Linked DNA regions of Homo sapiens. The protein of the gene in region 2 purifies or fractionates together with the protein of the main gene of each other region. This does not show direct contact. Each region holds a gene or a part of one and is shown on either strand. Other genes may lie near its edges. The genes, in order: SPIN1, NUTM2F, MAGED2, NUDT5, KIF11 and DNAJC3.

What was found.
Region 1: the proteins of NUTM2F (region 2) and SPIN1 purify together in Homo sapiens (affinity purification with mass spectrometry; one large-scale study listed by BioGRID and IntAct). This does not show direct contact.
Region 3: the proteins of NUTM2F (region 2) and MAGED2 purify together in Homo sapiens (affinity purification with mass spectrometry; one large-scale study listed by BioGRID and IntAct). This does not show direct contact.
Region 4: the proteins of NUTM2F (region 2) and NUDT5 purify together in Homo sapiens (affinity purification with mass spectrometry; one large-scale study listed by BioGRID and IntAct). This does not show direct contact.
Region 5: the proteins of NUTM2F (region 2) and KIF11 purify together in Homo sapiens (affinity purification with mass spectrometry; one large-scale study listed by BioGRID and IntAct). This does not show direct contact.
Region 6: the proteins of NUTM2F (region 2) and DNAJC3 purify together in Homo sapiens (affinity purification with mass spectrometry; one large-scale study listed by BioGRID and IntAct). This does not show direct contact.

Annotation. Positions count from the first base shown.
Region 1 is NC_000009.12:88,394,944-88,398,443, reverse strand, and holds part of SPIN1 (spindlin-1), read right to left. Parts: intron 1-3,500. UniProt on the Homo sapiens protein: Chromatin reader that specifically recognizes and binds histone H3 both trimethylated at 'Lys-4' and 'Lys-9' (H3K4me3K9me3) and is involved in piRNA-mediated retrotransposon silencing during spermatogenesis.
Region 2 is NC_000009.12:94,325,845-94,330,046, forward strand, and holds the start of NUTM2F (NUT family member 2F), read right to left. Parts: upstream 2,801-4,202; 5' UTR 2,780-2,800; coding exon 2,764-2,779; intron 91-2,763; coding exon 1-90.
Region 3 is NC_000023.11:54,813,630-54,816,515, reverse strand, and holds the end of MAGED2 (melanoma-associated antigen D2), read right to left. Parts: intron 2,147-2,886; exon of another isoform or gene 2,016-2,146; intron 1,856-2,015; coding exon 1,741-1,855; intron 1,269-1,740; coding exon 834-1,268; 3' UTR 826-833; intron 636-825; 3' UTR 501-635; downstream 1-500. UniProt on the Homo sapiens protein: Regulates the expression, localization to the plasma membrane and function of the sodium chloride cotransporters SLC12A1 and SLC12A3, two key components of salt reabsorption in the distal renal tubule.
Region 4 is NC_000010.11:12,185,892-12,189,391, forward strand, and holds part of NUDT5 (ADP-sugar pyrophosphatase), read right to left. Parts: intron 442-3,500; 5' UTR 401-441; coding exon 338-400; intron 1-337. UniProt on the Homo sapiens protein: Enzyme that can either act as an ADP-sugar pyrophosphatase in absence of diphosphate or catalyze the synthesis of ATP in presence of diphosphate.
Region 5 is NC_000010.11:92,596,130-92,599,629, forward strand, and holds part of KIF11 (kinesin-like protein KIF11), read left to right. Parts: intron 1-729; exon of another isoform or gene 730-1,160; intron 1,161-3,500. UniProt on the Homo sapiens protein: Motor protein required for establishing a bipolar spindle and thus contributing to chromosome congression during mitosis. Required in non-mitotic cells for transport of secretory proteins from the Golgi complex to the cell surface.
Region 6 is NC_000013.11:95,792,139-95,795,488, forward strand, and holds the end of DNAJC3 (dnaJ homolog subfamily C member 3 precursor), read left to right. Parts: 3' UTR 1-2,850; downstream 2,851-3,350. UniProt on the Homo sapiens protein: Involved in the unfolded protein response (UPR) during endoplasmic reticulum (ER) stress.

The DNA.
Region 1 (3,500 bases), 5.9 Mb from region 2:
ATTCAGACACTGAGCTAGATACCAGAAAAGTAATTACAGGCAAAAACAGGAATGGTTCTGCTTTCATGAAACTCAGCCTTTGTGGGAAAACTAAAATTAATTAAATCACATAAACTAATATAACATTGTAATTCTGATAAGCACCAAGAGGACTTGACTGCAGAAAAGTCAAAAAAATTCAAGAACTTCAGACAGCCAGGCACGGTGACTCATGCCTGTAGTGCAGTGGCACAGGTGGGAGGCTGAGGCAGCACTTTGGGAGGCTGAGGCAGGTACACTGCTTGAGTTCAGGAGCTCGAGACCAGCCTGGGCAACAAGGCAAAATCCCGTCTCTACTAAAAATACAAAAATAAACTAGCCAGGCATGGTGGCACATGCCTGTAGTCTCAGCTACGCGGGAGGCTGAGATGGGAAGATCACCTGAGTCCGGGAAGGTCGAGGCTGCAATGAGCCAAAACTGTGCCACTGCACTACAGCCTAGGCAACTGGAGTGAGACCTCGTCTCAAAAAAACAACTTCAGGCTGGGCACGGTGGCTCACACCTGTAATCTCAGCACTTTGGGAGGCAGAGGAGGGCAGATCACTTGAGGTCAGGAGATGGCGACCAGTCTGGCCAACAAGGTGAAACCCTGTCTCTACTAAAAATACAAAAAAATTAGCCAGGCATGGTGGCACGCACCTGTACTCCCAGCTACTTGGGAGACTGAGGAGTGAGAATTGCTAGAACCTGGGAAGTGGAGACTGCAGTGAGCTGAGACCGCACCACTGCACTCCAGCCTGGGAGACAGAGCAAGACTGGGGAAAAAAAAAAAAACACTTCAGACAACTGATGCTTGTTGGAGTCGGTGATGAATATCAGTACAGTCCAATCTCTTTATCTTATGAAAATGTGCAAGCACGCACACAGAAAATTTCATTAAAAGTGATGCTTGAGCCAAACTCTAAAGACCAGGAATAACTGTTAACAAAGAAAGGCATTCCAGGCAGAGGAAAAGAACAAGTGCCAAGATTCCTGGTGGAGAATATGGTGAGCACAGGAGAATGAAGGAGGCCCCACACAACTGGAGCAAAGGAAAGCAAGGGGAAAAACAGTACAAGATGAGGCTGAGGCCCAAAAGTAATTAGTCATGCACCACCTAATGACATTTCTGTCAACACAACAGACCACATATACTACAGTGGATCCATATTATGAGGCTGTTTTAAGCTACGTGTTATTTAAAAAGACAGAAAGTTTAAAAAAAAGTTAAAAAGCTTATTAAGTTAAAAAAATTACAGTAAGCTAAGGTAAATTACTGAAGAAACTTTTTATAAATTTAGTGTAGCCTAACTGTAGTGTTTACATACAGTCTACGGTAGTGTACAGTAATGTTCTAGGCCTTCACATTCACTCACCACTCACTCACAGACTCAACCCAGAGCAACTTCCAGTCCTGACAGCTCCATTCATGGTTCAGTGCCCTACACAGGCATGCCATTTCTCTTTTATACCACATTTCTACTGTACTTTCTCTGTCCTTAGATATGTTTAGATAAATAAATACCTACACAGCACTGTGTTCCAATAGTCTACAGTATTCAGTTCAGTCATATGCTGTACAGGTTTGTAGCCTAGGAGCATTAAGCCATATTACATAGCCTAGGTGCCTAGTAGGTTGTCCCATATAGGTTTGTGTAAGTATACTCTATGAGGTACACAACGAGGTTCTCTGAATGTATCCCATTGTTAAGGGATGTAAAGCTATATGTACACCAACTATATGTGTACCCTTGAGGCTACATTATAAACTTTTGTCCTTAAGGCACTGGAAAGCCATTTAGAGTTTTTCTGTTTTGTTTTCTGAGACGGAGTCTCACTCTGTTGCCCAGTCTGGAGTGCAGGGGTGTGATCTCAGCTCACTGCAGCCTCCGCCTCCCAGGTTCAAGCAATTCTCCTGCCTCAGCCTCCTGAGTAGCTGGGATTACAGGCATGCGCCACCACACCTGGCTAATTTTTGTATTTTTAGTAGAGACGGGGTTTCACCATGTTGGCCAGGCTGGCCTCAAACTCCCAGCTTCAGGTAATCCGCCCACCTCAGCCTCCCAAAGTGCTGGGAGTACAGTACAGGTGTGAGCCACCGCACCCACCTGGCCACCATTTAGAGTTTTAAGTAAAAAGCTGACATGGTCAGATCTGCCTTTTAAAAATGTAATTTTTTTTTTTTTGAGATGGAGTCTCACTCTGTCACCCAGGCTGAAGTGCAATGGCGCGATCTCAGCTCACTGCAACCTCCACCTCCCAAGTTCAAGTGACTCTCATGAGGAGTAGCTGGGATTACAGGCGCAGGCCACCATGCCTGGCCAATTTTTGTATTCTTAGTAGAGACGGGTTTTTTTGTTGTTGTTGCTGTTGTTTTTGAGACGGAGTCTCCCTCTGTCACCCAGGCTGGAGTGCAGTGGCGCAATCTCAGCTCACTGCAGTCTCTGCCTCCCAGGTTCAAGTGATTCTCTTGCCTCAGCCTCCCGAGTAGCTGGGATTACAGGCACGCGCCACCACGCCAGGCTAATTTTTGTATTTTTAGCAGAGATGGGGTTTCACCACGTTGGTCAGGCTGTTCTTGAACTCCTGACCTCATGATCGGCCCACCTCAGCCTCCCAAAGTGCTGGGATTACAGGTGTGAGCCATCACACTGAGCCTGAAAATGTAATTTTTTTAGGCTGTATTGATGCCTGACGCCTGTAATCCCAAGTTTTTTGGGAAGCCCAGGTAAAAGAACTGCTTGGGGTCAGGAGTTCAAGATCATCCTGGGCAACACTGTGAGACCTCATCTCTACAAAAAATTAAAAAGTTTTAAAAAGAAAATGTAACATTTTGACACTAACAAAACTACAAATGTGTTTACCTTTCACCCCACATCTATCTTAAAGCTGTATCTGCACAAATAAAAAACAATATACCCACAAGGTTATTCATTGCCGCAATATTTATAACAGCCAAGAGAATATAAACAACCCAAATGTTCATCATTAGGAGATGAGTTGCAAGCACGCACTTCAATGAAGCGCTCTCCAGAATAAATTAAGTAAAAGGGAGCAGTGTGCATAGAACGGCAGAGCAGTGTGCATAGAACGCTGCCTATTGTGTAGGAAAGGGAAACAAAAATATACACATATGCTTACATTTGCAAAAATGAAATATCAGAAAAACAAAGCAAAAACAACTGGGGCAAGAGAGAAATTCGTGGAGGAACAGAATTAAAGTGAAGCTGTGAACATAACTTTTTAACACAGATCAGATTTTTTAACTACATAAATGTTCACATAAATGTTCTACATGTTAAAAAATACATTAAATAGGCCAGGCGCGGTGGCTCACGCCTGTAATCCCAGCACTTTGGCAGGCCGAGGCGGACAGATCACGAGGTCAGGAGATCGAGACCATCTTGGCTAACATAGTGAAACCCCGTCTCTACTAAAAATACAAAAATTAGCCGGGCGTGGTGGCGGGCACCTGTAGTCC
Region 2 (4,202 bases):
CGGGAGCGGGTGTGGCAAAGGGCAGAGCCGTGAACACAGACAGGGAGGTGCCAGGGTTCACGGTCACGCCGGGTCCCAGCACTGGGTATGCTGTGGAGACAAAGGAAAGAGGTGAATGAGCTGGCGTCTCCAGGTCCACACTAGTCACTGGGGAATCAGGGGAGTCCCAACAGCTGAGGGCATGTGACAGGGAAACTCTGCAGCTTGCAAGTGTCCCTGAGTGTGCATCAGATGCTCTGTTCCTCCACGGCAGAGTCGCTCCACTAGAGAGCCTGGCGCCAGTCACCAAGACTCCCTGACCCTTGTCTGCCAAGAAGAAACAGCCAAGCCTTTGCTGTCTCTGAGGGTCTCCCTCGGGTGTCCCTGGCAGACTGCACCAGCCTCACAGGCATCTCCCAAGCCATGGGTCAGGGATGAGTCTCTCGGTGGCTTGGTGGCTCTCAGTGTGCTCAGCAGCAGGTGAGGGGCCTACCCCAGGGCAGTGCTCGGCATTCAGAAGGCCGACAGGAAACCAGAAGTTTCCGAATATTATGGCCCCATCTCCTCTTCAGTCTTCCTTTCCCTGAAGCTCTTGTAAACCCCTTTCTTTCCTAGCTCAACACAACAAAAGAAAACCACTGGATAGGCCGGGCGTGCTGGTTCATGCCTGTCATCCCAGCGCTTTGGGAGGCCCAGGCGGGTGGATCACCTGAGGTCAGGAGTTGAAGACCAGTCTGGCCAACGTGGTGAAACCCCGTCTCTACTAAAATACAAAAATTAGCTGATGGTGCGTGCCTGTAATCCCAGCTACTCAGGAGGCTGAGACAGGAGAATTGCTTGAACCGAGGAGGCAGAGGCTGCAGTGAGCCGAGATCGTGCCACTTCATTCCAGCCCGGGTGACAGAGCGAGACTCCGTCTCAAAAAAAAAAAAAAAAAAAAAAAAGAAAACCACTGGATGGAAACTCACCCAAGCCAGTGCCCTAGGAACCCTGAAGATAACCCATAACACATCACGCCCAGCATGCAAGTGATTGTCCTGGCACCACCCACACAAGTGTTAAATAGGGGTCAGATTCAGGCCACCCATTCCTCAGTGCTCAGTGGTCCCAGCTGCCACTCAGGAAGCTCAGTTCCCAGGGAGCAGATCTGAGAAGCAGTGGTGGAGTCCCCTGAGATATTGTCATTGTGTAGCCAGCAACAGCTGCACATGACTAGAACACAGCCAGCAAATGGTGAGCAGCAGGGCTATCAGGGGAGGTGTCTAGGGATTTTCTTTTTTTTCTTTTTTTTTTTTTTTGAGACGGAGTCTCGCTCTGTCACCCAGGCTGGAGTGCAGTGGTGCGATCTCAGCTCACTGCAACCTCTGCCTCCCAGGTTCAAGCACTTCTCCTGCCTCAGCCTCCTGAGTAGCTGGGATTACAGGCGCCCGCCACCATGCCCAGCCAATTTTTGTATTTTTAGTAGAGACGGGGTTTCACCATATTGGTCAGGCTGGTCTTGAACTCCTGACCTCGTGATCCACATGCCTTGGTCTCCCAAAGTGCTGGGATTACAGGCGTGAGCCACCGCGCCCGGCCAGGGATTTTCACAGCTGCTAGTCATGTTACACTAAATAGTGGGACAGGGAGCCCATCTCTGGTCCTTCTCCTTTGAGCTCCCAGTAACTGAACATAGGGACCAACGAAGAACCAGGGGTTCTTGGGCCACAGGCCAGGTGAGGCAGAGTTGTCTGGAACTCATCCCTGTTCACTAGGACCTCATGCAGTCTCTAGCCAAGGGGAATAAGGGATACAGCACATGCACCTCATCAGTCAGGACACACATCCTAGTTTGAATAATAATAATAATAGGACTGTCTTCCTATTTGTGCGCTACTCTCCTTCCTCTACTGAAAAGGAAACCAGCCTTTTCAGAGCCTTCCACTGAGAACCAGCAAGAATCCACACCTGTCGCCCGTTCATGAGGTAGTATAAATGGAACAGGAGCAAATTCTTCACCTCCACAGTAACACAAAGTACAGAGGACGGGCCATGAGCTAGCTGACGAGAGGAAGTGGGTCTGAAGACCTGAGCTTCCACCAAAGGGCAAACAATTCAGAACAACTCAGGAAACCCAGGCCCTGTGTTGCCTGAACTTCCCCATTCTGCCCCCACCCCTGTTAAATCAAAGCCAACAGCTACCTGAACTGACGGAGAAGCCATCTCTGGGGAGGAAGCTGAGAGGCTCTGGGCTGTGGCAGTTGCAGTGGCCCCCAGCCTTGCCCACCCAGAGGCTGTCACTACATGCTCTGTCACAGCCAACCCACCCAACAGTTTTCTGGCTGAGACCACTTCTCCCCACTCCTCTCTAAGAACTAGAAAACTCCAGTCCAAATCCCTCTAAACACTATGGAAGGGCACCTTCCAGGTGCCTGAAGACACGGCACAGGGCTCAGGCTTGCCCGTCATTCTCCCTGGGCCACCAGCACAACACGATCCCACCACTCCCTACAAACACAATGACGTGACCTGTCCCCCTCTAGAAAGGATCAACCCATCCTCTCCATCCTTTCCACTACACGGTGTATTCCCCCAGGCATCTTGGTCCGCCTCTAAGGAGCCCTCCTCCCTAACCACAGACTCAGGGTGCCATGGCCATCCCCAGGTGTGATGTCCCTGGGGACATCCAGTGCTCCCTCCCTCAACATCAGCCCTATAAGCTGTCCCCAGGGACAGTTCAAATTTGAATTCCCAAGGAGTTGAGGCAAGGCAGACTCGGATAATGCCCCATCCCTACAGGCTCACCTCCATTTGAAGCCATCCCCTCAGGCTGGGCACTGACCACCACTGTCTGGCAGCTTCCGCAATGAAAAAAGTCAAGGGCAGGACCCAGAGAGTGACCTGACTCAGCAGATCCTCCTGAGTCCAAGTGGAGCAGGGATAATTTGCATATAAACAGGTTTGGAACACAGGACCCCAGACATTCTGCAGAGGGGGAGGGGCAGTGGGCAGCCGGGCTTGGCGGGGGTGGGGGACATTCTGTGAAGGGCTCTGGCCAGTAGGCAAGAACCTGAGGTTCCCTTGGTTCAGTTGGTTGCCATCCAACTGGATGGCAGCAACACAGACAGTGTGCGCCTCTTTAGGCAACTTTTAAATTGTCCTTCTGACTCACAGCAAAAGCTTCTACCTGATGTCCCCTTTACTTCCATTCTTTATCAACAGACCTACTTTTGTGCCAATCAACCCATGCTCCTTCCCACTTTGGCTCTTTCCCACTCTTGATGAATTTCAACAGGGGCCACACTTACTTAACAAAATTCAGAACACGTTTTCAGTCTGAGAAACACAGGGGTTCTTAGGAAGGCAAGGGGACTGAGTGTTTGAAATCAGAATGGCCTCAGCTGATCCAGGCTATTAGGTGGCTGTGTGCTCATCATTGTTTAGGAAGCAGTCCTTGTGCCCCCAGGTCATGTATGTTGCTGGAATCTGTCCACACCAGTAGGCCAGCCTTACTTCCCGTCCCCTTTCTTAGGAAGACTCAGTCCAGGAAAGAGAGGCTATGTGACCTACAGCACCGAGACCAGAAATCCTTTCATTTTGTTTCCCAGCATATTGTGCTGGTGTTAAATGTTTATTTTGTATCTTTTACATGATTTTAACTTAACTAAGCAATACTTTTGCATGGTTCCAAATTCAAATTGTGCACAGTGGAATAGACAATGACCAGCCTTCCTCCCACCTCTTTTCTCTGGCCACCACATTTTCTTTCCTGGAGGAAATAGGTGTTATCTGATTCTTTTTCATCTTTCCAGAGATATATTATGCAATCAAAAGCATAATGAAGCTATTTTTGCTGTCTAAAAATATTTTCAGTTTTTTGGGGGTAAAAATTAATATATTAATATGTTCTAGTATTCTTCTGATATTTGCAGTGACTGTATTTGTCCCAGTAATGTGGTTCCTCTCTTTATTTCTGTAGGTAAATTGCTAGAATGAGATGTTGGACTGTTTTTTAAAATTAAAAATACATGAAAGAACATAGTGGCCAGATTTAGCAAGTATGAATAAAGAATACCAAGTGGAATTTGAATTGAAGATAAACAGTGAATTAGTTTTTACTATAATTATGATCCATATGACATTTAGAGTACACTTTTACAAAAAAAAAAATCTGTCCTTTATCTGTGCTATTCACATTTCACTGGGATCTTGCACTTTATCTGGTAACTCTTCCCAAAAAAGTG
Region 3 (2,886 bases), on a different chromosome or scaffold from region 2:
ACTTCTCCCTCTCCGTTGACTCCTCCCTACTCAAGTCTCTCTCTCCTTCCCCAAGAAAATGCTCCCTTGTTCCTGTATCTCCATTTAGCTCTGTACCCCTCTCTCTCCTCATTCAAATTTCTCAAAAAGGGATTCTATATTTGATGTCCAGTCTCCTCTACTTACACTTTCTGCTCTAGACTTGCCGACCTCAAGCCTCTCCTTCAAAGTGTGTCCTCTGTAACTACAATCTCTTGAACTCCACCCCACTAAAATCCCACCACCCTGAAGGCTAGACGTGATGCCCAATCTATCCCAGAAAGGTGTGTTAATCTCGCTCCTGGGAATCCAACAATTAGACGTGAGGCCCAATCTATCCCAGAAAGGTGTGTTAATCTCGCTCCTGGGAATCCAACAATATCACCTCAAACTAAACACAGACTGAGGTGGAAACTTTCCCAACTCACTGATTTTTAAATGTGATACCAAAATGTGACAGCCCGCCAAAAAAAGCAATAAACTCAGAAATGGCAAATAGATTTAATGCAGAGTGTCAACTTCAATTGATTGATAGTGGCTGCCTAGAGTGCTGTGTTGAGTAGGTTTCTGAGGATGCACCCTGGCTTGAAGAGAAAGACTGGCAGGATTAACAATATCTGAAAACACAAGTAAGAGAAAATAAAAGGGTCAATTGACATCCAGCAAACAGAAAGGAATAAAATGCCAAAAGCAGTGTCTTGGCACACTCTCCACATCATTCTCCAACTTGGGCCTTCCTAGAATCATCCAGCTCCTCATCCCAGCCCCATAAGCCCCAGATGTCCCCACTGAAACCAAGGCAGATACCTAAAATCTCACTTGTAGGAGAAACCACAGGCACCAGAGCTGCCACTGGTGCTGGCACCAGCTCCACCAAGGCCAGCGAAGAGCCCAAATGTGAGAGTGGCGGTCAGGCTGGCACCAGCACTGAAGCCACCACTGGTGCTGGCACTGGCACTGGCACTGTTATTGGTACTGGTACTGGCACCAGTGCTGGCACTGCCACTCTCTTGGGCTTTGGCTTTAGCTTCTGCTCCCGCCTGGATCCGGGCTTTGGCCCAGGGTCCGATATCAGCTTCGTCCCAGTTGCAGGGCCCGGCAGCATTCTCCGAGCCGAGCCCAATGCCCATTCGAGCTCTAATCTCGGCCCTAGCCTTGGCTTCAGCTGCAGCCTCAGCTGCAGCCTTCAAATCCGCTTCCATCGCCTCTCGGTACTGAGCTGCCCATTCCTTGGGATCCTTCTTTTGTACCTGAAACAAAAATAACCATCAGAAGGAGCATAGAGGGATTAAGCCATAGTAATAATACAGTATTACTATGTAAATAACCATCAGAAGGAGCATAAGAGGATTAAGCATCTACCTTTATGCTAGGCACTATGCTACATGCTTAGTATAAAAAGATAATAGTAATAATACAGTATTACCAGTAATTATGCACCTAATATTCCATCCCTGCTCTGACACTTCCTAGCCCCATGACTTTGGACATGTCACCTACCAACCTTTCTGGGCCTCGGTTTTCTCATCTGTAACAGGGCAATGACATATCAGGTTGTAAGGCTTAAATGATTCAGATAAAGTGCCTGTTACAGTGTTTTGACAATTAACAGAAGCACCAAAACATTCAGATTTGAACTGCAGGCTGCTCTGCACACAGCCTGCCCCAGCCAGGGGCACCCCATGCTCTTGACTTGCCAAGCTCAAGGAGCTCTCCAATTACCTTGCAGGCAAACTTGAGGACTTTCATCTTGCTGGTCTCATAGTAAGAGCGCAGGCCCCAGAAGAACTCATATTCAGGGGGATTGCTATTGGGGACTCTGGCATAGTCCAGGTACCTTGGAAAGAGAGGTTCAAAGCCTTTATTTCTAAGACCATTCATGGCCTACCCATGCATAGACTGGACAGGCTCCAGATGGCAACATCATCCACTAATTACTACAGTCTTTCTTCCAATATTGAGCCCTGTCCCACTGGTCTTGCCCAGAAGCCACATAGAGGTGTTGGGGGACGTTTGTTCATAGGGAAGCCACAAGTTTGACGCCCTCATCACAATGACCCCAGATTCCTGTTGGGTGTGTTGTAAACAGAGGAGCCATTCTTTGGGCCCCCTGCTCTGAGCACACCCCACTGCAAGTGTCTTGGCCTCAGCCTGGCCAAGCCCAGAAAGGTCCACCACAGAAAATGACCAGAAAGACTACAGAGGAAGAACAGCCAATAGCAGCATGCTTCACACATGCTGAATTCCTGACCCTTTGTGTGTGTTTCTGTGTGCACATGCGTGTGGCTGTGTGAGTGTTTGCATGTCCTCCAAGGACCAAGGATAGGTGAGCTTTGGCCAGAAATTCAAGAGGACTGGGCTCCAGGCCCATACCAGCTGTGGGCCATGCTCAGATCTCCCTTCTCGGAGCCCCAGGTCCCTCAACTGTAAAACGGGGATGGGATGACAGCTGCAGGGTAGTTATGAAAATGAAATGAGATGTACAAGTCAACTCCCCAGCATGGTACCTGGTTGCCTGAAGCTACCATTCTATGTCATTTCTTTACGGAAATTAATTTCTATGAAGCTCTAGTTAGCAGAATAAAAAGAACTAAGGCTTTGGAGCCAAGTTCTAAACATAACTCTTCTACTTGCTACCTGTGTAACCCTGACCAAATGACTTCACCTCTCTAAACCTCAGTTTCTGCATACGTACAATGATGGTAATGATAATCCCTCCCTTGCAGAACTGGTCTCAAGACAAATGTTGAGGTATATGTAACAGATCAGGAAACATGTGCTGCTCCTGTTTCCCATCACCGCCCAAGGAATAATCCCACCTGCATACATGCAAATATGCAAATACATACACACATAGACACATGCATC
Region 4 (3,500 bases), on a different chromosome or scaffold from region 2:
CCATCAACAGCCAAGTTGTGACAACTACATATGAAATATCTGAGTCCGCAAATGCATATATTCTTTCTTCTTCTATCTAGGGAAATACAGGAAGGATTAAGAATTTTTCTGTTAAGAGCCCAAATCTCCTAGAGTCTCAATTTCACTAATACACAGAGAGACACACTACTCCTCCCACACAAGAGCAAAATGTGCCCGAGCCCAAAAAAGGGAGTAGGAAAAATCTTTACAACTGTCTTCAAGAATGAAAGACCACCATTGTAACAACAGTCTATATATTTCTGCTAAACTCAGATTTATGTGGGGGAGGGAAGGGAAAGTGAAAAACAAGTTATACCTCCTCTGAAATGATATACTGTTTGCCATTCTGAGAAGATTCCGTTGGTTCTTGGCTCTCCATTTTCAAACGAGTCTTTACAGCCCTCAGGTGAGAAGTTCACCCTGCAAGATAATGAGATTTGTTCAGGCTAAAATTATTTTTCTGAATTAAACATTCGTCCACAGGACACTAGTCAAAGTACTTAAACGGCAAAAAATTCATCTACCATCAACGCTGCCTGTCTCAGTATGTGAGGGAACTGCCGCAGGTGGAAATGTGAACAGGGAGGCCCGGGGATTAGCCAGGAAGGAAGTGACAGCAGTCCTAGTCACCCTCAGCCACAACAGCCAAGCTCCTGCCATGCCTGTTCTAGGCACTTAGAGGCCACCCTTCTTCATCAGATTTTTCTTTTTTTTTTTTTCTTTTTTGTTTTTTTTGAGAGAGTCTCACTCTGTTGCCCAGGGTGGAGTGCAATGGCGCGATCTCAGCTCACTGCAACCTCCGCCTCCTGGGTTCAAGTGATCCTCGTGCCTCAGCCTCCCGAGTAGCTGGGATTACAGGCATACATCACCAGGCCTGGTAATTTTTATATTTTTAGTAGAGACAGGGTTTCACCACGTTGGCCATGCTGCTCTCAACCTCCTGACATCAAGTGATCTGCCCTCCTTGGCCTCCCAAAGTGCTGGGATTACAGGCGTGAGCTACCGCGCCCAGCCTGATTTTTCTGACTCCGAATCTTAAACTCTTTCCAAGGGAAGACAGAAGAAAGATTTACCACTCTCCATGCCCACCTCTCAGTCTTTTATCCATCTGTTACACCTAAACTTACTTATTTTTTGAGATGTAAGATCTCACTCTGTTGCACAGGTTGGAGTGCAGTGGCGAAATCATGGCTCACTGTAGCCTCTACCTCCCAAGCTCACGTGCTCCTCGCATCTCAGCCTCCTGAGTAGCTGGGATTACAGGTGCATGCTACCACAGCCAACTAATGTTTTAAACTTTTGGTAGAGGTGGGGTCTCACTATGTTTCACAGGCTGGTCTCAGACTCCCGGGCTCAAGCGATCCTCCTCCCGCCTCGGTGTCCCAAAGTGCTGGGATTACAGGCATGAGCCACTGGACCCACCTCCCCACTTACTTTTAAGTTTCAGCATGTATCAAAGTCATAGTTGCAGAGAAAGGATCGAGTAGTACTACAAGTTCTGTTATGAAAAGAGCAGGCCCTTATCCCATTTATTGTATATTATTATTTCCTCTTTCTTTATTCCTTCATTTTCGGACCTTGCCTGTCCGAAGGTCAAAGTCTTTTTTTCTTACCCACACACATGGTTGTTAATTCAGCTGTATATAGAATTATAGACCCAAAGCCAGTTGTCTATGAAACTGTAAGGCATTGCTTAGTTGTCTTACTTCTGGTGCTGCTGTTGAGAAGTCCAAAGCTATTCTTATTCTTGATCTTTTTGCCATGTGACCTGTCTTCCTCCTCTGGAAGCTTGTAGTTAGTCACTTTCATGTCGATGTTATTGTACTGGGAAGTCAAGTGGGTCCTTTCAATCTGGAAACTTCTTACTATGCTTCTTTACAGGGAATTTTTTTCTTGAACGACTTCACTGATGATTTCCTCCCCTGTGTTTTCTCTGTTGTTTCTTTTAAGAACTGTTACTTGGACCAGGCACAGTGGCTCACACCTGGAATCCTAGCCCTTTGGGGGACCAAGAGTCTGAGACCAGCCTGGGTAACATGGCAAAACCCTGTCTCCACAAAAATAAAAAATAAAAAAATTAGCCGGGTGTGGTGGTGGGCACCTGTAGTCCCAGCTACTCAGGAAGCTGAGGCAGGAGGGTCATTTGGACCCAGGAGTTGGGGGTTGCAGAGAGCCGAGATCACGCCACTGCACTCTTACGTTCCACGGTTCTCTAACCTACCCCACCTAACTTCGGCTTCAAAGAAAATACAGCCCACCCAGCATCAACTCTCTTCCCAACTGTCCTAAAGGAAAAAGTGAGTCTGCTCTTTGTTTCTTCTGGGACCCAAAGTGATCATACTACCCATCTGATCTTCAATTTGTCCCCAAGACAGCAAGCTTCCCTATTCTAAAATACAATCAATAACAAAACCAACTGTATGAATATTCATAAAGTGCGTTTACAAATCAAATATCTGATTGACTATCATAGGTAACCCTTGTGGCCAACCTGTGAAAGGTGAGATGATGTTTTAGGAAAGTGGCGGTGAGGCCGGGTGCGGTGGCTCACGCCTCACGCCTACAATCCCAGCACTTTGGGAGGCCAGGGCGGGTGGATCACGAGGTCAAGAGATGGAGACCATCCTGGCCAACATGGTGAAACCCTGTCTCTACTAAAAATACAAAAATTAGCTGGACGTGGTGGGGTGCGCCTGTAGCCCCAACTACAGGGAAGGCTGAGGGAGGAGAATGGCTTGAACCCAGGAGATGGAGGTTGCAGTGAGCTGAGATCGTGCCACTGCACTGCAGCCTGGCGACAGAGCAAGACTCCATCTAAAAAAAAAAAAAAAAAAAAAAAAGTGGTGGTGAGAGGGACAAAGACCCTCACTCCCCCGGACCTCATTTTCCAGTGAGGAGAAAGGAAAAACAGTGAGGAAGAACACAAAATTTATGTCAAGTGACTCAGCGTTTCATGAAGAAAGATTAAAAAGGATGAGAAGTGTGGGGAAGATGGGAAGAGTAATCTACACGGAGTGATCAGGCAAGGCCTGTTTAATTTGGTGACTTCTGAATGGAGACCTGAAAGCAATAAGGAAGTAAACCACGTAGAAGTTTAAATATTTAGAGACAGACATTAGCATATTGAAACCTGCAGCCCTACTAAGAAAACAGGCACTTATTCCTTTGAAAGTACCATAGATGATAATTTATTAGGTAAACTTTTTTTTTTGAGATGGAGTTTCGCTCTTGTTGCCCGGCTGGAGTGCAAAGGCATGATCTCGGCTCACTGCAACCTCTGCCTCACGGATTCAAGCGATTCTCCTGCCTCAGCCTCCCGAGTACCTGGGATTACAGGCTCCTACCACTGCACCCGGCTAATTTTTACATTTTTAGTAGAGATGGGGTTTTGCCATGTTGGGCAGGCTGGCCTCGAACTCCTGACCTCAGGTGATCCACCAGCCTCAGCCTCCCAAAGTGCTGGGATTACAGGCGTGAAC
Region 5 (3,500 bases), on a different chromosome or scaffold from region 2:
AGGAGCTGGGACTACAGGCGCCTGCCATCTCTCCCGGCTAATTTTTTGTATTTTTAGTAGAGACGGGGTTTCACCATATTAGCCAGGATGGTCTCCATCTCCTGACCTTGTGATCTGCCCGCCTTGGCCTCCCTAAGAGCCGGGATTACAGGCGTGAGCTACGGAGCCCGGCCTTGAGTTACTTCTTACTTTTAGCTATTATGAATAATGTTGCTATGAATATGGGTTTTCAATTCTTTTGGGTATTTACCCAGAATTGTAATTGCTGGATCATATGATAATTCTATTTTAAAGTTTTTGAGGAACCGACAAACTATTTTCCACAGTGGCTGGACCATTTTACATTCCTACCAACAGTGCATAAGGGTTCCAATTTCTCCACATCCTCACCAACGTTTATTTTCTGTTTCTTTTTTTTTTTTCAAGTAGCCATCCATTGGGTGTGAGGTGCTATCTCATTGTAGTTTTGATTTGTATTTCCCTAATGATTAATGATGTTGAGCATCTTTTCATGTGTTTACTGGCCATTTTGTGTATCTTTGGAGAAATGTCTGTTTAAGTCCTTTGCCCATTTTTAAATTGGTTTGCTTTTTTGTTGTTGAGTTTTAGGAATTTTCTATATATTTTGGATATTTTCAGATACATAAACGGCAAAAATTTTTTCCCCATTACTGTGGTTTGCCTTTTTACTCATTGATACCGTGTGGTCTTTTCCTTTCTTTTTCTTTTTGGAACCAGTGCATGGCCTCTTTGTTGATTCTGTGTTTGGCCCCAGTGCAGCCTGTTCTGTGCTATGTGTCTGCAGTGCTGAAACCAGGCCTACCCAGCACCATACAGAAGTCCAGGCTGTAGATACCAATGCATGGGTCACATTTGATACCCAAATCTGTGTGTTCCTGGATCTCCAAACCAAAGTTTCCAGTATCTGAGAAGTTGTTCTTTCTTGATTCACACTCCTGCATCTTTAGACCTTTCTTCAGGGTTTCTTCTGCTTTGGCCCTTTGTGCAGTGGGTGGCAATCTTCACTTCTCCTGATGCCAAAGGATCTGACAATGTATTTGACTTTGGAGAACACAGGGGTCTGGCCTATGAGCTGCTCCAACACCTTGGCTGCTGGGGTCAGTCATCTCCAGTCTCCTCCATACAGATGTTGAGACAGAAAATCGTTCTGTCACCCAGGCTGGAGTGCAGTGGCACAGTCTCGGCTCACTGTAACCTCTGCCTGTCAGGTTCAAGCAATTCTTATGCTTCAGCCTCCCAAGTATCTGGGATTACAGGTGTGCACCACCATGCCTGGCTAATTTTTTGTATTTTTAGTAGAGATGGGGTTTCGCCTTGTTGGCCAGGCTGGTCTTGAACTACTGGCCTCAAGTGATCCACCCATTTTGGCCTCCCAAAGTGCTGGGATTATGAGTGTGAGCCCTCATCTGGCCAGAGTTCTCTTTTTTTTACCTTGATCTTGCACTATGATGGAGAAAAGGAAGATAAAGTCTTTTTTTTTCCCTTGGGTTTGTTTGTTTGTTTGTTTGTTTGTTTTTTGAGACGGAATTTTGCTCTCGTTGCCTAGGCTGGAGTGCATTGGTACGATCTTGGCTTACTGCAACCTCCGCCTCCTGGGTTCAAGCCATTTTCCTGCCTCAGCCTCTAGAGTAGCTGGGATTACAGGCATGCGCCACCACGCCTGGCTAATTTTGTATTTTTAGTAGAGATGGGGTTTCACCATGTTGGTCAGGCTGGTCTTGATCTCCTGATCTCAGGTGATCCGTCCACCCTGGCCTCCCAAAGTACTGGGATTACAGGCGTGAGCCCGTGCCTGGGCTATTTTTTTTTTCTCCCCTTTAAATATAGTATCTTGCTTTATTGCCCAGACTTGTTGTGAACTCCTGGACTCAAATAGTCCTCCTACCTCAGCCTTCCAGGTAGCTGGGATCACAGGGATGCTGTCTTTTGATACACAAACATTTTAAATTTTTATGAAGTCCAGTTTGTCTTTTTGTTTTTGTTCCCTGTATCTTTGGTGTTATATCCAAGAAATCATTGCCAAATCCATTGTTGTGAAGCTTTTGCCTTATGTTTTCTTCTAAGAGTTTTATAGCTTTAGGTCTTACATACATTTTTGATCCATTTTGAGTTAATATTTGTATATTGTGTTAGATAAGGGTCCAACCTCATTCTTTTGCATATGGATATTTAGTTTCCCAGCACCATTTGGTGAAAAGCTTGTCTTTTTCTGATTGAATGGTCTTGGCAACCTTATTAAAAATCATTTGCTCATATGTAAGAGGGCTTATTTCTAAGTGCTGTTATGTTCCATTGGTCTATAAGTCTGTCTTTATGTCAGTACCACATGGTTTTGATTATTGCAGCTTTGTAGTAAGTTTTGAAATCAGGAAGTGTGAGTCCTCCAGCTTTGTTCTTTTTCAAGATTGTTTTGGCTATCTGGACTCCCTTGGGATTCCATATGAATTTGAGGATGAATTTTTCTATTTTTGTAAAACACGTCATTGGGATTTTAATAGGGATTACATTGAATCTATAGATCACTTTGGGTAGTATTGGCATCTTAACAATATTAAGTCTTTCAGTTCATGAACAAGGGATGTGTTTCCATTTATTTATGCCCCTTAATTTCTGCCAGCAGTTTTTTTTTGTTTGTTTTTGTTTTGAGATGGAGTTTCGCTCTTGTTGTCCAGGCTGGAGTGCAGTGGCACAATCTTAGCTCATTGCAACCTCCACCTCCCGAGTTCAAGTGATTCTCCTGCCTCAGCCTCCTGAGTAGCTGGGATTACAGGTATGTGGCACCACGACCAGCTAATTTTTGTATTTTTACTAGAGACAAAGTTTCACCATGTTGGTCAGGCTGGTCACGAACTCTTGACCTCAGGTGATCCACCCACCTTGGCCTCCCAAAGTGCTGGGATTATAGGCGTGAGCCACTGCGCCTGGCCTCAGCAGTGTTTTATAGTTTTCATTTTATAAGTCTTTCACCTCCTTGGTTAAATTAATTACTAATATTTTATTCTTTTTGGTGCTATTTTAAATTGAGTTGTTTTTGTAATTTCCTTTTTAGATTGTTCATTCTTAGTGTATAAAAATGTAACTGGAGGCTGGACGCAGTGGCTCTCACCTGTTATCCCAGCACTTTGGGAGGCAAGGTGGGCCTCCCAACTCCTGATCACGAGATCAGGAGTTCAAGGCCAGCCTGGCCAACATAGTGAAACCCTGTCTCTACTAAAAATACAAAAATTAGCCATGCATCGTGGCGCGTGCCTGTAGTCCCAGCTACTTAGGAGGCTGAGGCAGGAGAATCGCTTGAACCTGGAAGGTGGAGGTTGTGGTGAGCCAAGATCGTGCCACTGTACTCCAGCCTGGGCAACAGAGTGAGACTCTGTCTCAAAAAAAAAAAAAAAGAAAAAAGAAACGTCGCTGGATTTTGCTTGTTGACTTTCTATCCAGCTACTTTGCTGAATTCACTTATTAGTTCTAACAGTTTTTTTTTG
Region 6 (3,350 bases), on a different chromosome or scaffold from region 2:
GGCAAGGTTAGTCAGGTCTGGCTATATTTCCACTGTTGTTTCATTTAATAAGATGGCATCTCCTCTTGAGATATGTTCTTCTTACCTTTTAAGAAGATACTATTTAAGAAGTGAACTATTCAGTCTTTGTATACTGAATGCTTTTTCCCTAAAAAATGTTAATCAAGAATATTGAATATTTATGGCACTCTTGATGCTGCATTTGAAAGCTGAAGGAATTACTTTAGATAGATAGGAATTGCTACCTTTATTCTGGAAAGGTTTTGTTTCTGCCTCAAAGCATTTTGAAGTGTTTTAACCATTAAAGGGTCTAATTTTTTTTTCTTAATGAAATCAAGCATTTTAATTCACTGTGGGAGGCATCCTGACCACGGACATCCATAACAGCAAAGCACAAATCGTTTTCGTCTGTAGTCATATCCTGAAACATAGGTGGACAAATTTTTAACTGAGAGACAAAAATCACATAGTTGAATTGAGCAGAACACTTAAGTGCTTTCTGCATCTATTTAGGAGTCTATTTCTTACCAATAAACTTGACAACGCATTTGGAAAACTAGTGAACACCTTACAGCTTTCATTTTGCTTTAATGTTTCAATTCAAGCCGGTGTAAAAATAATTTCCAAGGCATTTCTGTTTATTCTTTAGTAATCTCACTACTGGCTATGTCAGCAATATCTTTTTCAATCTGGTTCCTTTTGTATATGATGTCACTGTGACCTCTTTGAAATATAGTGATGGCTTTTACCTACTTTGAAAAGAATTTTCACATAGAGTCAGAAAAAAAAGGAAATATCAAATCACTTGCCTTTCCACTTGGAGAGCACGACAGTTGCCAACAACAAGGGGTCAAGGGCCGCACAGGAGATGTGTGGGGGCCTGGCCACCTCCCACCTGCTGCCCAGAGGCTTGTTTGCATTTTCATTTTTTCTCCACTTGTAACAACCATAGTTTCAGCTCCTAAATTCTTATCATGGATTTACTTAGTCATCTTAACTGACCTGCAGTTACTTGCCTGTTTTCAGTGAAGAGAGAGAAGCAGCTCTGGTGCCACATGCCAGTGCCATGGAGGGAAATGAATTCTCTGCAATCTGTTGTTTCGCTGATTCATGAAGAAAGTAACAACTGTTGAGTTTCAGCCTTGATGGCTGTCGGCAGTTTTCTGGTGTCCACCCAAACGGAGAGACAGTCACTCCTGCTTACCCTAATGTGTGACTGAGAAGCAGCCTGGGTGTGTAAAGAGATAGTCATTCCCCCTGCCTGTCTCACTGTAGGGTAGCATTATCCACTGTAAAACCATACTACTTTCATTTTCCCTTGGGGACTACAGGTGCCAGGTAACCTTTTTTTTTTTTTTTTTTTTTTTTTGAGACAGAATCTTGCTCTGTTGCCCAGGCTGGAGTGCAGGGACACCTCCCGGGTTCAAGCAGTTCTCCTGCCTCAGCCTCCAAGTAGCTGGGACTATAGGCACGCACCACCATGCCTGGCTAATTTTTGTATTTTTAGTAGAAATGGGGTTTCACTGTGTTAGCCAGGATGGTCTTGATCTCCTGACCTTGTGATCTGCCCGCCTTGGCCTTCCAAAGTGTTGGGATTACAGGCGTGAGCCACTGCGCCTGGCCATCAGGTAACCTTTATGGCTCTTTCAGGAAAAGTGAAATCAGAGAGGCGTACCCTAGCCACAGCTGTTGTATTCTGCTCTTCTTTCCTTTTTGGTGAGCTTCATGGGTGGAGTTATCAGTGGTCTGTACTTTGTGGATATTTTGCCCAGCAGGAAGTATTAGACACATCAGTCTAGAAGCATTGTGAAAAGGTTCCAAAACGGGAGACAAAATTTAATTCATTCCTCAGTTCTGAAAGTTTGTGCTTTCTTACCATGAATAGATGAAAACTTGAAAAAAATCTTGACAGTTTACTAATGTGAATCAGATGTAACGTACTACTAATTCTACAATGCCTTTCTCTTTAGTCAGTATTAAAAATCTTTTTTAAAGTATTGGTATGAAAACAAATTTTTGTTGCCCTGATAATGGAATTTTAAAACTACCCACAGTTTAAGAGAAAACATAACTTGGTAAAAAAGGTAGCCAATAAAACCACAATTTGAAATTGATACCATTTTCTACTCACAATGGATGATGAAAAATTTCACCTTTAAATGGGTCAGAAGTTGTCTTTGACATTTACCATGAAAAAACTACATAAAATGGCTCCCTGGTGAGGTTACAGACACGGCCCTGGTGATGGGCGTTGCAAAGTTTTCACTGAGCACACAGCAATGGTATCACCTAGAGAAGTTCACGCAACTTTGTTGAATGTAGTTGACTTTTCCAAATTTATAAAGGAAGGAAGAAGGCAAATGTTAATTTGCCAACAACGAATATCCTTTTTCTAAATCAGATCATTCCTTTTTTGTTAGTGGCAGTTTATCCTGTAATTTCAAATGACGTTAAGAGGTGGGATTATTTGGGGGTTTTTTTTGTTTGTTTACAGATGATCTCATTTGCTGAATGATTGATTTAAGAGTAAAATTAGCCACTGCGTGGCTTTGTGTATAGTAACCGGTTTTGTTGCACTTGTCTGTGGCTGAAACACTTACCTGCAGTGGAAAGCCGAGCAAGGAGGAGGTAAACATTGGAGATGTTTGTGAAAATATTACTCTTGCTGTGAGGTTTTAGTTTGTTTTGAATGAGAAAAGACTAAGTAACTTAATCCATCTCAATGTAGTGTTTTAATAAAAAAGGAACCTAATATTTGAAATGGGTCTCAGACATGTCTACAAATATGGGTACTATTTTTATGCCCGTGTATTTTCACATTTAATAAAAATATTTATGGTCATATCAGTATTTCCTTGCTTTTGATTCATTTTTGTCCTTGAGTATAAAATTCTAAGAAAGTCCGTCTTAGGAAAAGTCTATTATTTCCAGCTTTGCTTCACGCAAAACCAGTGACTGAGGTGACAAAAGGGCTCTTCCTTTACACAAGTTGACAGGGAAGGTCAGAACACACAAAGCAGAAAGGGCTAAAATAAAATCTCTTAACCCTCAAAAGTCCTAGGACAACTAAGGACTTAAAAAGTGGACAAGTCTTCCATTTCAGTGCTATTAAAATGTAACACTTAAATTGGCTTTGTCTGAAGATTTTCTCTTCTCTTTTATACCCCATTTGTACATTTCTGTTAAGGTCCTAAGTTGGGAGGAAGGAAGGACACTATAGCCTATCTATCTCAAATTTCCAGCTACAAACAGAAGGAACTGCCTTCTCAGTTAATGTATTCTGCATATCTTAAGAAAGATCCAAGGAGAGCTACGATATGTAAATGTATACAGAACTTTTCCAGAAAGCT